Linked DNA regions of Homo sapiens: region 1 is linked to region 2. A link means that fine-mapping ties the variant in region 2 to the expression of a gene that starts in the linked region. Tissue or cell type: whole blood. Region 2 holds a variant in brackets; the other region holds the start of a gene. All regions are shown on one strand. Distances are from middle to middle.

What was found. PIP is the estimated chance that this variant, and not a neighbour inherited with it, causes the effect.
Region 1: GAL3ST4 starts here. The variant in region 2 is fine-mapped to the expression of GAL3ST4 in whole blood (INTERVAL, PIP above 0.99).

What each region holds. Positions count from the first base shown.
Region 1 is chr7:100,167,070-100,169,746 of GRCh38, forward strand. GAL3ST4 (galactose-3-O-sulfotransferase 4) reads right to left here and starts at 1,548. Exons shown (of 4, transcript NM_024637.5): 1 at 1,477-1,548; 2 at 1-214. The coding sequence starts at 26. GPC2 (glypican 2) reads right to left here. Exons shown (of 10, transcript NM_152742.3): 10 at 2,537-2,677.
Region 2 is chr7:100,601,710-100,604,386 of GRCh38, forward strand. It overlaps PCOLCE (procollagen C-endopeptidase enhancer), which reads left to right and starts at 654. Exons shown (of 9, transcript NM_002593.4): 1 at 654-842; 2 at 1,721-1,829; 3 at 2,250-2,508. The coding sequence starts at 748. It overlaps PCOLCE-AS1 (PCOLCE antisense RNA 1), which reads right to left and starts at 2,329. Exons shown (of 9, transcript NR_038910.1): 1 at 2,129-2,329; 2 at 631-1,457. RefSeq lists an enhancer at 1,763-2,555 and a silencer at 2,563-2,677. The variant A/G (reference allele first, on the strand shown) is at 1,593.

The DNA.
Region 1 (2,677 bases), 430 kb before region 2:
GTCCTGGCAGGAGAGAGAGGGCCCATGTGGCACAGGGAAGGGTGAGGTGACAGAGAGATGGAGCCAGGGCCAGGAAGAGGGGCAGAGACAGCTGGAGACAGCCGTGCAGCTGCGGAAGGCACTGGTTGGAGATCGGGGGGTCATTCCCCAGGCCTGCTCACAGTCTTGGTTGAGTCTGCCCCCTGAGTTAGCAGATTTTTGCCTCTGTCAGCGTCTAGAAGGGAAATGAGGGGGGAAGAAGGGAAGTCTAAGGAGAGAGGCAGAGGCAGCCTTCTCTCCTGCTGCAGCTGAGACCTCCTTCAGGGAAGGGGAGTGGCTGGGGATGTTGTCTATACCCAGACTCTCCTAGGTGGCCCCACAACTACTGTCTCTGCTCTATCACTTTCTTATCTCCAGTTCCTCCCGCTCCCCACCTACAGTTGTCCCTGAGCCTTGGGGATTTATAAGGGAAGGAGAGAAAAAGCCCCAGCTCGTGAATGAAACAGCCAGCAAGAGAGAGAGAGATCAGATCAATCAGCTCATTAACACAGTCAGGTCAGACCATGGTCGGGAACCTGGTTTCCTCCAGAGCCCCTCTGGCTGTCACAGATGGGGATAAAGAGCCCTATCCCAGGACCAGGAAGGGAAGCCATACAGTGGGAATGAGGATCAGACAGGACACAGGTGTATGAACCCAGGCAGGAGGAAGGGAGGTTGGACTTCCAGGAGTGGCATTGCAATGGGTAAGAGCCATTGGGTTATAAATTCCCGCGCCTCTTTTTTCTCTGTCTCAGCACGGGGCAGACCCCCATGTATGACAGGGGCTGGGGGAGACGTGTGGCTACTTATAAAGCCCAGATCCCTGGACTTACCCACCATTCCACTTTCCAACCTTATCAGTGCACCCGGAGGAGACTGAAAGGGTGGGGCTGGAGAGGGAGACAGAAAGAGAGAGAGACACACACACACACACACACACACACAGAGAAACAGAGAGAGAGAGACAGAGGGACAGAGAGACTATGACACAAAGATAAGGAGAAAGGCGCAAACACTAACTGCAGAGTTCCTTCTGAAGCCCGAGCTTCCTAATCAACCGGGAGTCCAGCCCCGCCCCTTCAGATTACAACTCGCGATCAGGGACCACGGCCCCTCCAACAAGCCCCGACAGCTCCCTGCTCCGATGAGCCAGGGGTAACCCCAAGCAGAGAGAAGCCACACTTTTACTCCCGGAGACCTGCCCTCTCTGGCATCACTCCCCAATTCCCTCCCTGATCACAGCCCCTGGGGTCTAGCCGCGTCTCCCCTATCCAGAGTTCTTCATTTCCTTCCATCCATCTCTCCCTTCCCATGATTGGAGATCCCAGCCCTCTGTCCCCTCCAGCTTTGGTGACTGCCCAGTTGCCCCCGCTGGGGTTCCATGAACCCCTCATGTCTCCTCCCATAAATTAGAGGGTCCCTCCACTGGTCCTATCCTTGGTTTCACTTCCCACTCACCAGGCCACAAGGGGAGCAGCAAGGGAAATCGGGCCGGGCCCTCCCGCCCATCCCAGCCACCGCCCGACTCTTGGCTCAGCTCAACTTTCCCCAAGAACTTTCTCAGCGCCCAGGCTCCTCCCTCCTCCCTTTGTGCCGCCAGCCCCAGCAGCTGCTGCAGCTTTGATCGCGGTTCTAGGTCTCTCCCTCGCTGCATCTTCCCCTCTTCGGCAGGGCACCCAGACTCCTCTTGGAAGACACCACTTCCGCCCCCGCTTTCACACTTGGGAATCAATCCTACCATTTTCTCTTGGCTTGCCGCAGAACAAAAGATTCATTCAGGCGGTGGAAAGAAAGAAGGAAGGAAGGAGAAAGTGATATTTGAAAGCAGACATTGTCAAGGACGTGGCAAGGTAGCCAGAGACTGACACTCAGAGAACAAGGCCTCCCATCCTGAAGGCAGGGGGCAGTGGTGTGGTCACCTTAATAATGCTTCGTGGCCGGGTGCGGTGGCTCACGCCTGTAATCCCAGCACTTTGGGAGGCTAAGGCTGGTGGATCGCTTGAGGTCAGGAGTTTGCGATCAGCCTGGCCAACATGGTGAAACCCCGTCTCTACTAAAAATACAAAAATTAGCTGACTGTGGTGGCAGGCGCCTGTAATCCCAGCTACTCAGGAGGCTGAGGCAGGAGAATCATTTGAACTGGGGAGGCGGAGGTTGCAGTGAACTGAGATCGCGCCATTGCACTCCAGCCTCGCGACAACAGCGAGACTCTATCTCAAAAAAAAAAAAAAAAAAGCCTCATGTTCAAAGAGCATTTTGCAGGTGACAAGGTGCTTTTTCACACAGATTCTATTTGGTCCCCACAATTCTCCCTGTTGTACAAACGAAGATGCTCAGAGGCCCAGAGGGTGGGCAATTTGGAGATCAGAGGTTATTGTCTAGGCCCGCCTCCTGGGGGACAGGTGCCAAGGGAAGTGAAAAGCCGGCAGAAAATGAGCCAGTCACAGAGGCTCTGAGACCTCTGCTAGGAGCCAGGGCTCAGGCACTGATGGTGACAGCACAGAAGCCACACATGGGGTCCAATACATTACCATTTATTTGCAGAATAAACATGGACTCAAACACTGAAACATGGAGTTTGTGAAGGATGTGGGTGGCAGAGGTCACGAGATGAGCACCCCCCCACCTTGTTTTTTTTAAAATTTGGTTTAAGAAATTG
Region 2 (2,677 bases):
AGTGGAGGCCAGGTGTGGTGGCTACGCCTATAATCCCAGCACTTTGGGAGTCCGAGGTGGGCGGATCACCTGAGGCTAGGAATTTGAGACCAGCCTGGACAGCATGCTGAAACCCTGCCTCTACTAAAAATACAAAAATTAGCCAGGTGTGGAGGCATGCACCTGCAGTCCCAGCTACTCGGGAGGCTAAGGCACAAGAATTGCTTGAACCCGGGAGGCGGAGGTTGCAGTGAGCAGAGATCGCGCCACTGCACTCCAGCCTGGGTCACAGAATGAGACTCTGTCTCAAAAAAAAAAAAAAAAAAAAAAAGAAATTGAAGTGGAAAATGAGCTGGCAGGGGTGGTCAGGCAGGGGGTGAGCAATGAGGGCTCCTGAGCTGAGGAAGCAGGGGCGGGGGGAGGATGGGGGCTAGGGAGTCCTCAGAAGTTCCCGGAGATACTCCCTCACTGGACAGAGTGGGGTTCCCGATGACGTTACTTGAGGCCTGGGAGACGGCCTCTGCCCCTCACTGCTCCTCCCCCTCCTAAGGTCAACATTTATGTGTCCTAGACCTAGAGAGGTCCCAGGACACGCCACTGTCCCGCCTTCCCCATTGCCCGCCCCACTGGCCAGTCCCCACGCCCACACACCCAAGGCTGCCCCATCTGGCGCTGATTATCCTGCTGCTGCCGCCACCGCTGCTGCTGCTCTGCAAAATTCAGCTGCTGCCTCTGTCTTGAGGACCCCAGCGCCTTTCCCCCGGGGCCATGCTGCCTGCAGCCACAGCCTCCCTCCTGGGGCCCCTCCTCACTGCCTGCGCCCTGCTGCCTTTTGCCCAGGGCCAGACCCCCAACTACACCAGGTAGGTCTCTTGGCATCTTCCAGACAGCTCCAGTGAACTTCAGACCCCCGATTCCTTTGGGGTTATGCCTGGAGATATTTTGGGTTCCCTTGCTGACACACCACTCCCCAGATTCCCCACCGCCTCACCCTTCTCTGGCCCCCAAATCCTCCCCATCTGCTGCAAGACCTTGGTCTCCTGCAGGCCACCACTGCTCCCATTCCCCCACCTTCGTCCTCTGGTCTCTTAAGTCTCCCCACCCACCCAGATCCTTGACCCCCCATAGAACCCAAGAGAGAGCCAAGCTCCTGAACTTGCCTGGTAGCTGGATTCCAGGAAGGAATTCGAGAGGGATTGTAGGGGGAGGAGGGGGCAGTGAGTGGAGACTTGGGAGTCAGAATCTGAAGTAGTTTGGAACAGGGGCAGGGCTAAGGTGTGGAGCTCGCGGAGCCTGGCCTCCAGGTTCAATCAGAGGGCCATCGCCACTGCAGCTCCCTCCATCTCTCCACCCCCTCCCCCCCACCGCCTCGTGGCTGTGTCCACATCTGGAAGTAGTTAGGCGGCTCCTGTCCCTGGACTGCCAGGCAGAGTGAGGCGGGAGTCTGGAAGGGGGGCCGAGGAGGATTCCGGGAATTCCTGTTGGGGTGGGGGTGGGGACTCTTGGGGTTGGAGGGATGGTCGAGTTGCCAGGCCCACTTTTCCCTTATCTTTGTGGGAGTCTGGGACACCCCAGCCCTGTCCTGGCTGGTGGAAGCTGCCCCAGGTCTCTCA[A/G]GGCCTTTCCATTTCATCCCCCAGCTTCCCTCCTTGGAGTTTCATCCTCATCACCTCATCCCCATCTTGCCAGTGCTCCCCCGTCCCACCCGTCCCTGCTCTTTCCTGACCCCTTTTCTGTTCTCCAGACCCGTGTTCCTGTGCGGAGGGGATGTGAAGGGGGAATCAGGTTACGTGGCAAGTGAGGGGTTCCCCAACCTCTACCCCCCTAATAAGGAGTGCATCTGGACCATAACGGTGAGAAACCCCTCTGGGCACTACCCCTTGTTAAAGTCTCAGAGGCAAAAAGGCCTGACTGCGAAGGGACCCCCCCCCCGTCCCCCCCGCACCACCTTCTCAACCTGGGGCAGCTCCAAGTGTCTTCCCTCTGTCACTGAAGGCATCATTCCCACCGTAACACGCATCATCTTAACCCTTCCCTCAAATCTTCATTCTCCAGTCCCCGGCCCTCCCTCCTCTTCCAAAGCCTCAGCTCTTGTCCCCTGCACAGGCTACCAGCAGAGCTGCAGAGACCAGGCCCTCTGCTCTGCACTCACATGGAGGCCCCTTCCCATTCAGTCCGTTTCTGCAAGAAACGCTTGGGGCAGGGGAGCTGCCCTCTGGCTGGGTTGTGTGGGGCCTGACTCTGTGGGTCCCCGCCTCTGTCCCCGCTATCAGGTCCCCGAGGGCCAGACTGTGTCCCTCTCATTCCGAGTCTTCGACCTGGAGCTGCACCCCGCCTGCCGCTACGATGCTCTGGAGGTCTTCGCTGGGTCTGGGACTTCCGGCCAGCGGCTCGGACGCTTTTGTGGGACCTTCCGGCCTGCGCCCCTAGTCGCCCCCGGCAACCAGGTGACCCTGAGGATGACGACGGATGAGGGCACAGGAGGACGAGGCTTCCTGCTCTGGTACAGCGGGCGGGCCACCTCGGGCACTGGTGAGAACTCCCTCACCTCCGCCTTCCCCCCCTCCAGGCCCCGCCCCGGCCGCAGCCCCGCCCCCAGCCCTAACCTCCGCCCCGCCCACCCCGCGCCCCAGTGCCTAGGGCCCCCTACCTCCCTGACCCATTTTCCTCACTAACCGCCCCTTCAGTCCCTCCTCCCCGT